Homo sapiens: one gene and its partners. The protein of the gene in region 2 interacts with the protein of the main gene of each other region in a pairwise test. Each region holds a gene or a part of one and is shown on either strand. Other genes may lie near its edges.

Evidence for each region.
Region 1: the proteins of ABI3BP (region 2) and GOT1 interact in a two-hybrid assay, tested with the Homo sapiens proteins (one large-scale study listed by BioGRID and IntAct).
Region 3: the proteins of ABI3BP (region 2) and MBNL1 interact in a two-hybrid assay, tested with the Homo sapiens proteins (one large-scale study listed by BioGRID and IntAct).

The regions. Positions count from the first base shown.
Region 1 is NC_000010.11:99,420,538-99,424,198, forward strand, and holds part of GOT1 (aspartate aminotransferase, cytoplasmic), read right to left. Parts: intron 269-3,661; coding exon 87-268; intron 1-86. UniProt on the Homo sapiens protein: Biosynthesis of L-glutamate from L-aspartate or L-cysteine. Important regulator of levels of glutamate, the major excitatory neurotransmitter of the vertebrate central nervous system. Acts as a scavenger of glutamate in brain neuroprotection.
Region 2 is NC_000003.12:100,832,764-100,836,424, forward strand, and holds part of ABI3BP (target of Nesh-SH3 isoform 8 precursor), read right to left. Parts: intron 2,898-3,661; coding exon 2,838-2,897; intron 2,011-2,837; coding exon 1,921-2,010; intron 395-1,920; coding exon 362-394; intron 1-361.
Region 3 is NC_000003.12:152,463,444-152,466,280, reverse strand, and holds the end of MBNL1 (muscleblind-like protein 1), read right to left. Parts: 3' UTR 501-2,837; downstream 1-500. UniProt on the Homo sapiens protein: Mediates pre-mRNA alternative splicing regulation. Acts either as activator or repressor of splicing on specific pre-mRNA targets. Inhibits cardiac troponin-T (TNNT2) pre-mRNA exon inclusion but induces insulin receptor (IR) pre-mRNA exon inclusion in muscle.

The DNA of each region.
Region 1 (3,661 bases), on a different chromosome or scaffold from region 2:
CGCCTAATATTTTAAACAAACTGTATTCTCAACATCTTTTTACTTTCAGTTTCTAAAGAGAAAATACATCCTTACCCAAAACTTACCCGCTTCTCCTTGAGTGCTGGGCTGTCATCCCCAAGGGCAAGACGAGAAGCACAGCTCCGGAACTCAGCCAGGCCCAGGATTGGCAGATACTCGTGATTTAGGCTATTGTCATTAGCAATCTTCTGCTCCACTTTCTTCACTACTGGCAAAACCCAGGGATGGCAGTCATCCGTGCGATATGCTGGAGAATGGAAAAGAGTTATACATAGTGGAGGCTCATGCTGTGTCCAAGTTAAGAGTTTGTAACTGTGAACCAGGAGAATCCCACCACCTTCCGGTCAAAACAGAACAGTGAAGGAAATTGGAGAAAAGTTTGTTCACTTACTGAGTACCTAATTTGAGCCAAGCATTGGGCTAGGTGCTGGGCAAACATAAGGGCAGATGTGGTCCCCATCCTTGTGGAACTTACAGCTCTTAACTATGTGACCTCCAAAAAGTAGAATGCTGAAATAAAACTGGGACATCACAGAGCCTGGTCACATGAGAAAGTACATAGAAAAGCACTCTGCAAAGTAAAAAGCATCTTGCAAATGTCATGTCAATATCACTAGTGCACTGAGGTCTCTAGGCCATTGGCCCAGCAGTCTTCTTCCTTCTGCATCTCCCCAAGAGACTTCCAGAAAAAGCCTAGGTGCTACTTCCACATGAACCTGGCACCTTTAACACAAACATGGAGAAGGAGTGGAAGAAGGCCCACCACTCCTCTTGTCCCAGAGGAACAGAAATAAGACGAATGATAAGCAAATGCCCTGACGATTTCAATGACAGGTGACACAATCACCCAAGGACCCACTTAAACACATCTCTATCCTCTCTCTGTATTTTGACCTCAGCCAGTGTTTACCCTTCTGACTTCATCCCACTTCATCTGCCTCACCCTTTCATTGATCTAAATTGATCTATTTCACAATATTTGATCCTGCTCTACAGTAAACCTCTAAGCATTTCCTCTTCCTCTGAAAGTATTTTTAAGTCACTCTGAGTTATCCAGCACCAATTTTTTTCCCTACACTATTCTATGATTATGTTAGGATTAGAGCTTTACAGGGCAGTTACCTTAGCTTTGCACCCACGCCAATAATCTGTCCAAGTAGGATTCCTGGCAGGGGTCATTTGCCTCTCTGTTTGAATGTTTAGGTCCTCAATAATCCTACACTTACGCAAGTGATTTTGAAATGGAAACAAAATTTTAGAGTGATACTGATTTTTATTTTCTTGATTTCTGCCCAAAATTAATCCCTGACTTAAAAAAAAAATTACATTTTAGGGTTGTTGTTACCATTTACTGAACAACACGTGTTGATTGTAGAAAATTGGGAAAAGCCCAGAAGGTAAAAAATAAACATTATAATTAACATGTGATTGTGTTTTGAAATGTGAGAAGGCGATGAGATTTGATAGGGGTCAGGAGTAGACTGATATAGTTTGGCTGTGTGTCCCCACCCAAATCTCATGTTGAATTGTAATCTCCAGTGTTGATGGACCATGGGGGCAGATTTCTGCCTTGCTGTTCTTGTGACAGTGAGTGAGTTCTCACTACATCTGGTTTTTTAAAAGTGTATAGCACCTCCCGCTTTGCTCTCTCTCCTGCTGGGCCATGTGAAGGTGCTTGCTTGCGCTTCACTCTTCCTCCATGATTGTAAGTTTCCTGAGGCCTCCCAACCATGTTTCTTATATGGCCGGTGGAACTATGAGTCCATTAAACCTCTTTTCTTTATAAATTACCCAGTCTCAGGTAGTTCTTTATAGCAGTGTGAGAACTAACATAACATATAATCCCAGTACTCAGAGACAAGGAGTATGAAAATTTTGGTGTACAACCTTCTAAGCTTTATTTTTGATGGGCATATTCTTTTATAAAATATGGATCAAACTGTACATAGAATTTCAACATGCTTTTTTCCATTTAAATATATACTATGCATTTTTCCTCCTCATTAACTATTCTTCTAATAGGTGACATGTTTGCATGTCTCCATCCCATTCTTATCCTCTATCTACCTAGTTCTCAAATCCCTCCCTCCATAAATAACAACTGTTAGTTTCTTACATATCCTTCCTGCATTTCCCTATGCCTACACAAGCAAACACAGCTTCTTACATATGCCCTTTTAAACAAAAGGTAGCATACGGCATACTATACACTGTTTTGTGTTCCTTGCTTTTTCCACTTGAAAATCATTTTACATTTGCGCATAGAGAGCGTCCTTGTTCTTTTTTACAGCTGCTTAGCTGATGAATGTACCATATTTTACTTTGCCAGTCTCTTGTTGGACATTTGAGTTGTTTACAATCTTTGGCTATTAAAACAATACTTCAGTGAACGACCCTGTACATACGTCATCTCACATGTATGCAAATATATCTGTAAGATGCTGGGTGGAAAACAAAAGAGTGGGCTAAGAAGTATGTGTTTTTGTAATTTTGACAAATATTTCCAAATTGTCCCAATTGATACAGGAATTATATCAATTTACATTCCCACCAGCACTGTTTAAGAGCGTTTGCTTCCACACAGCCTTACGCACTGAGTGTATTTTTGCCAATATAATATGTCAAGTAGTTTTAATTTGCATTTATCTTATTATGAATGCAATTGGGTATTTTTCATAAATATGAGCCATTTACAACATCAGTTTAGTGGATAAATAATATTTGTTTTATATATAATTTATTAACTGTGTTGCTTTAAATTATTTGCTATTATAAACATTGTGATAAATGTTCATATATTTACACATATTCATGAGTGTTTTCTTAGGAAAAATATCTAAATGTTAATTTATTAGGTCACAGGATATACAGTAAAAAGACTTTATAAGATCATTTTGAATGATCAGCTAACTCTACCCTCCAGGAATATGTCATCTGCAAATCTGAGAAACATTTCAAGTTAGTAATAGAAATGTGGACAGGGCTACAGACTGACAGAGCCACTGACCAAATGCCTCTGGGTAGGTGAATCAAACAATACTCTCATACCACTCATAGTCTACCCTCCGGCTCTGGTGAATCTAACTCACAATATTTTTTTCTTTTTTTGAGACAGGGTCTCACTCTGTTGCCCAGGTGAGAGTGCAGTGGCACGAACACAGCTCACTGCAGCTTCAACCCCCTGGGCTCAAGCAATTCTCTTGCCTCAGCTTCCCATGTAGCTGAGACCAAAGTCATTCACCACCAGGACCAGCTAATTTTTTTTTTTTAAATTTTTCATAGAAACAGGGCCTCACTTTGTTGCCCAGGCTGGTCTCAAACTCCTGGGCTCAAGCAAACCTCCCGCCTCGGACTTCCAAAGTGCTGGGATTACAGGAGTGAGCCACCATGCCTGGCCCAACTCACAATACTCTCATACCATTCATGATATACCCCTTAGTCCACCAAACTTCTCAACAAGTTCAAAAAGCCTCCTTCGCCAGCTGGGATTTGGTCTGGCTTCTCTAAAGATGTACCAAAATAGCTACTTCCAAGTAAGAGTTGTCCCTAAAGCACATCAACATATCTATGATCACAACGTTACCATTGTTCAAAATATTCTTGAAACTTCTTTTGGAATTGTTTCTAGAGGCAACATCTC
Region 2 (3,661 bases):
GCAAAAAAAATTACATACAATTTGAAAAACAGAAAGGTGCATAAAGAAACTTCATGATATCATTTGATACTACGTTGGTGCTCTAAATAAGGAATATATGGGGAATTGTAGTTGGATCTTGGCTCTAAGAGTATTGTTCAGAGACTCAGACATGACACAGTTTCAAGCTGGGCTATGGAGCAGATAGCTGTCTTGAATTAAGTCATTGCATATTTCTTTAAAAAGCAAGCTTTCCATATTTTGAGATGAATACTGTAATGAGATGACAACAAAAGATGGTACAATAGCCTATATAGCACCATAGCAAAATCTGACAATGAGTAAGAAAAAGGACTTGCTGAAGGACATAGAGAGTCATTACCTGAAGATGTCCCAGGAGTAATAGGTCCAAAGTCTGTAGCAAGAAATGATCAAAAGCAATTTTAAAAAGAAATAAATGTTAAACACACGAGAAAAGCCATCATTCTCTTGAAAAGTGAACTTTACCATTATAGCGTTGGTTCTATAGCCACAAAGCAAACATTTTGAAGTTCTCAAGTGAGGGTACATATTTATTTGCTTTTATGAAACAGATATAACCTTAGCATCTGTAACATGGTTAACTACCAGTTTTTCTTATTTTTATATTATCTGATGATATAGTAGAAAACACTGCTTAGAAAAATCTTAGGACATCTAATAATGTTATGTTTAAAAATTAGGAAAAACTAATGTGAAAGTGTAGTTACACTATAAACTGGAAAACAAAGCCCTAGTTCATGATAGATGCAATTACTGATATGTTTAAGCAGATACACTGATGAATGACTAAAACAGATAATGCTGTTCTTTGTTGAGAGTGCACTTTGGAAAAAGACCAAGACCTCTGTTCAAATAAAGGCATACAAAGAACCAGATATAGAGGGTCATTCAATCCATCAAACTTGTTAGTGCATCTCTTTGTTATCAGGAGAGAAAAGGCCTGACCTCTAGGTTAGGAGAGCGTGCTGGAGCCAATTGGCTCAAATCCAATCATCGAAGTCAGGCATTCGAAGTGCTCTTTGTAGACCCATCAAAAGCAGCATTACTGTCCAACTAAAAGAACTTTGCCTTTCTTACAATCAGGTTGCACTTGCAATTCCTATCCTTCCAATGTCACCCTCACACGACACCTTCCTGCCTCTGTTTATATGATTCCTACCCATCCACCAATAAATCTACAGGCTCTACAAATTTCAAGGTCCACAAGATGAGCTCTTGCTCCGTTGCCTGGGCTACAGTGCAAGGGTGCAATTGTAGCTCACTGCAGTCTCGACTTCCTGGGCTCAAGCGATCCTCCCACCTCATTCACCCAAGTAGTTAGGACTACAGGTGCACATCACCATATCTGGCTAGTTTTTCTTAAATTTTTTGTAGAAATGGAGTTCTCCCTAAAGGTTCACATTACACTTATCAGCCCACAGATGTTTTGCTTCTCTAAGAATTAACGATGTGCCTAACAGTTGGTAAAATTTAATAAATATTTGCTTTTCCTCACATTCCTGTATATCTATTATGAAGAGTCTCACACAGGTAAGTCATTTGTTTTTTTCTAAAATATTCCTCACAGATACAAACGTTCAAAATGTGTGACAGGTTGAACTAAATATGCTAACTAGACACCTAATCAGGTCAGTTTTTGCTGAGCTGAGGAATCAAAGAGAAAAATGTAATTGAATGTCAGAGAAGCAAGTAAAATTCCCAGGCACCAAGGAGGTCCTCACGCAATCAGAATGAGGAAGTCACAGGTATCGCCAGAGCACTGTGTTGGTAGCAGCTGCTTTCCATGACTTGGGCCTTCACCCCAAGGGTCAAGTGGGTTATAAAGTGGCATGTTAAACTGCCACCCCCATGCCACATCCAATGGGATGCCACAGGGACAAGGAACCACATATTATTTACCTAGTTTGGTCTGCAGTGTCTCTGGGCGTGGCGTGGTTTTATGTTTGGGACGTGGACGACGTGTTCTTGTTCGTTGCGATGTTTTTGGAGCTAAAGAAAGGAAACTGGTTATTGTAGTCATATGACTCCAGAAACCAAAGAAAGGATTACACATGGTTCTAGGTTTTCTAAAGTTTTCCTAAGTCTTGAGAAATTTGTCTCTTTGGTTTAGAATTTTCTTCTGATCATCTATATGCAAAAATATGTATTTTTGGTCTACTGACAGGTCTTTTGAGACAGATGGAATATATGTAATTTAAAAAAATAAACTGCAACTTTATTATTAGTTGCTGGTATAGGATTTTCAAAGAGGGCCCAGACCCAAGGGAAGTCAGACATAGGCACGTAGACATCACATCAGAGAGGGACCCAGGCCTGCCTGCTTTTGGGAGAGCGTACTAAGAAATTACTTGGCTCAGACACACATTCCATTACAAGTTATTAGTATAAACACATTTTGTTTTCTAAAATAGTTGGTAGACAATAAAAATTCTCTGTATATCTTAAAACAACAGAAAGTAAGATGCCCACAGAATTATAATTGATATTTATCAGGCAGACATTCCTAATTGTATTTGAAATTCAGTTTTAACATAGAACACTACTGGAGCAGAATCACAGGCTCTGTCAAGCATTAATAAAGCTGGATAATATGGGAAAAATGGGACACAGATGCTGTTCACTAGTGGCGTATGGGCTTATAACCAAGTAACTTGTTTTAAGCACTTTCAATACATTCAAAATGAAGAATATAGTTCAATGACAAGAGGATGATGAGAAAATCTTATGAAAGAAAAAACCCTTAGCCCAAATAGTGATGGAATAGACTAGACAATGAGCAGAAAAAACTCATACTTAAAGACATAAGAGGTCATTACCTAATGTTGTCACTGTAGCCTCAGTTCTCACAGTTACAGGCTCAATGTCTGTGGTGGGAACTAACCAAAAGCAATACAATAAACAATGGAGATTAAGAAATACAGAAAAACAAAGTTATTTTGAAAATGAATCTTCTTAACCCTTTAATGTTTTAAATACATTTCTGAACTCTGGGAAAATAGTATTTGTTTTCCCCTAAGTAGCCAAACTATCATATCCATTTATTTCACAAAATACCCATACCCTTTGCATCCCTATAAGGGCAATGAAAAATATTTTTCTGTATTTCATTATCTGATTCCAACAACATAAAAAACCTGGATCCAAGAAAATCTTAGTTGTCCAATATATAATTTTAAAGTACTCTAAAAATTTGTTATAAAAGCTTCTGTTGGTATTTAAAAAGTTTTCACCACCATTATTAATTTGTTTTGAGAGTGGTAGTTGTGAGGAGAATTAGAAAGATGTTTTCAGTCTATTTACTGGAGATTTGTGAGAGTTGTGCAAAAGTCTTGTACGTTTTATTTGTAATAAATGTGATATTGCTTCTTACTCTGCCTCCTTATTCATTTATTTCAAATTGCTAATTAGGAGATAATTATTCAAGTAGAAAACAGAGATAATTAAGAAGAAGGTCTAAAAGGTAATAATACAACTTTTTGTCTAGATATAAAGGATTTCTATAACATTCTGAAATTGATTATACATAGATATAAAATTAATCAAGAATTGTAACTCTCTGGTATTAGCATCTCCATTTATCTTTCACTAAACCCAGAAGGCTAAATGTAACATTCAAACATCTCATCCTCAAAAACTCTTT
Region 3 (2,837 bases), about 52 Mb from region 2:
CACACACCCCTCAGGAGTAATATCATGGCCTGCCTCATAGATCATATGCATAATTTCTTTCATCCCTCTGAATACAGTGCCATCACCTCTCTTGGATTGCCTGATTTCCAGTCCTAATCAGCTGACGCAGCAGTCAGGCAAATAAGATTTCTTTAATAAAAGATAGATAGTGATCTATAATGTATAATAATTTTTTTCTTACCGTTTTTTGCCCTGACACTTAAAACTATTTCAATCAGCGCTTAAAGTGTCAGACAGGGGAAGGCAAGAATTTCAGAAAACATTGGGCACAGGAGGGCAATATATGCTGATTTAGATTCTCCCTCTCAGTGTCAAAGGATAATTAGTGAGAAAGACAACAAATGCCTTCCTCGCAGTTGCAATCAGTTAAAACCAGGTAACAAATTTATACATCAATATGTTTGTAAAGATAGATACATATGCATGAATACATGAAACACGCAAAAATAATTTAGTATTCAATCTCAGATACACGAATATACTTAAGAAAGAGAAGTTTTATTAGGGCAATTTCACTTTATTTTTCCATACAGCAAAGTCAACTACTGCAGTAATAATAAAATAAGCATAAAACAAATTGCAGCCCAAGACAAAATACATAATTTTAAGCAACTACAAGCAGAAAGTAAGTTGTGATTACATAATAGTAAAACCAAGCACATTTGTCCTTTCAGCAGATGAAAGTGGTAGGGTTGCTGATAAGTGCAACATTTTTAACCAGCTGGAGTGAAGGCTGGATACACTAATTCTTTTAAACAAGTGCCCATTATCACATTTTGCATTTTTGAGTGCTTCTGAGTTGAAAATTAAAACCATGAAATTTGAACTGCGTTTTATTTTTCACCTGCTGAAAGAACAGGATCCTACAGCAATTAAAAAACAATCACATAACAACTATAGCTACAGTGTGCTGTTTGGTTTGCCTGTTTATGATTTAAATTTTGTGAAAGTCAATACTTGTTTTGAAGATTTTTTTGTGAACAATAAACCACTGAAATTGGCAGAAACTGATCTGAATAATATATGTTCTTAGTATAGTTCTTTCTCTCTTTTTTTGTTGAAGTTTTAAACATGCAGTAGTTTTGAAAAATGTAAGGAATATCTGATCCATGATTTCACCTTAATGGTAGAAGTACCTGCTATTTTTGGTAATGATCTTCAGGCAGATTTGGCCCCATGGAGTTTTTGTCAGTCATGAGGGTTTGAAAGGATGGCGTATCTTTCCAGCTGAAAAAATCCTGGCAAACTACAAGCTGTCCACAAGAAAGCAAAGCAACATGTTTGAAGGGGTATGGAGTGCTAACTCTGTGCCACTTTTGCAAGCAATTTTGCTCAGTCTGTCATTGTATTAGCCTTAACAAAACTCCTTGTAATTATAGACGTTTTTATTCAAAATAAGATCTTACTATTATACAGGTTTCTCTCTTTTGACTATATACAGAAGTGCAAAAAGTCAACCTTCTCCCTAGACGTTCCAACATGCTAAATTGCAGCATAATCAACCCTCAAGAGTTTGCACACACGCTATAATTTTCATTACGTAAACTTTGAGTATTTGGATTATCAACAAAAAGTCCCTTGTTCTATTTATTGATTATGCAGCTTATTTATAACAAGGCCTGATACTCAGGGATTTCAAAAATATTAAACAATATTTTAACATTTGAAATGGATACAGTAGAAAATAAATTTTATTCTAATATCTAGGATCTAGATCTTCTTATAATAACTAATTACAAACAAAATAAATCATCAAAATATTACTCAATTGTCTGCCAGGATTGTTGCGATAGCAACAACTTAACTTCTTACTTAGCAATGATTATATATTTATAAGATATCCATATAAAAGATCTTTGTTCTTTTAATGAAAACTAGACAAGAACTAACAATGACTGACATTCTTACACTGTAATATTAAATCAGTAAAATATAAATCATTTAGTTAACAATACGAATATTCATGTGACACTACATGTAATTCAAAACTGAGTATGTTATGAAGGAAAAACTACTTTTTTTTGTATTTTGAAAAATTCATTGGTAAAATCTAATAAAACAAGTCTATAAACTGAAATGGTATTCAATTGTTAATAGAAAATGAAAATCTAATAAATGTAGGAAATGAAAAACTACATTTTAACAAGAAAAATAAGTAATATTCTATAATGTAACTAACTACAATAACATGTGAAGTCACCATTACTTTCTTAACACGATTGAAATTACATTGGTATGGGTTCCAACCCGTAATGTAATAATCTAAGGCTTTAATAGATGTACAGTACAATCAGTAAAATCAACACATCAGTCTTATATTAGAAAGCATCTCTCTCAAGCATAAAAACTTGCAGTAAACTTGGAAGTATGGAAAGTTCTATAACTGAACTTTCACTTCTCCCATTCCATACTATAACTACCAGTGACCTGGCCCCTACTTCAGCAATTTTTAGAACTGCTGAACAGAGCAAAAATATCCTTTACTAGCTGCAACATCCAAACCTCAAAAAAAGGAATTCCTTTGGATGATTCCATTCTTAAAAACTGAATGCACATCTATTTTTTTTTTAATTTTGTAAAAGGCTTTCTAAGGCTATAAGCAGTTAATCTGAACAAAACAAAACAAAACAAAAATCACATATAAAATTCACCCATGTACTTAACCCACCCAATTACTAGGTTAATTAAACATTTCCCATTTTCATATTTTGGTTTATCATGCATCTGATGACAGTGCTGCTTTCTTCTTTGTTTAGAGTCACTATTTTGAATGTGACTGTGATGAAGCATTTAAGCAAACGTGAAACCATTTTTGC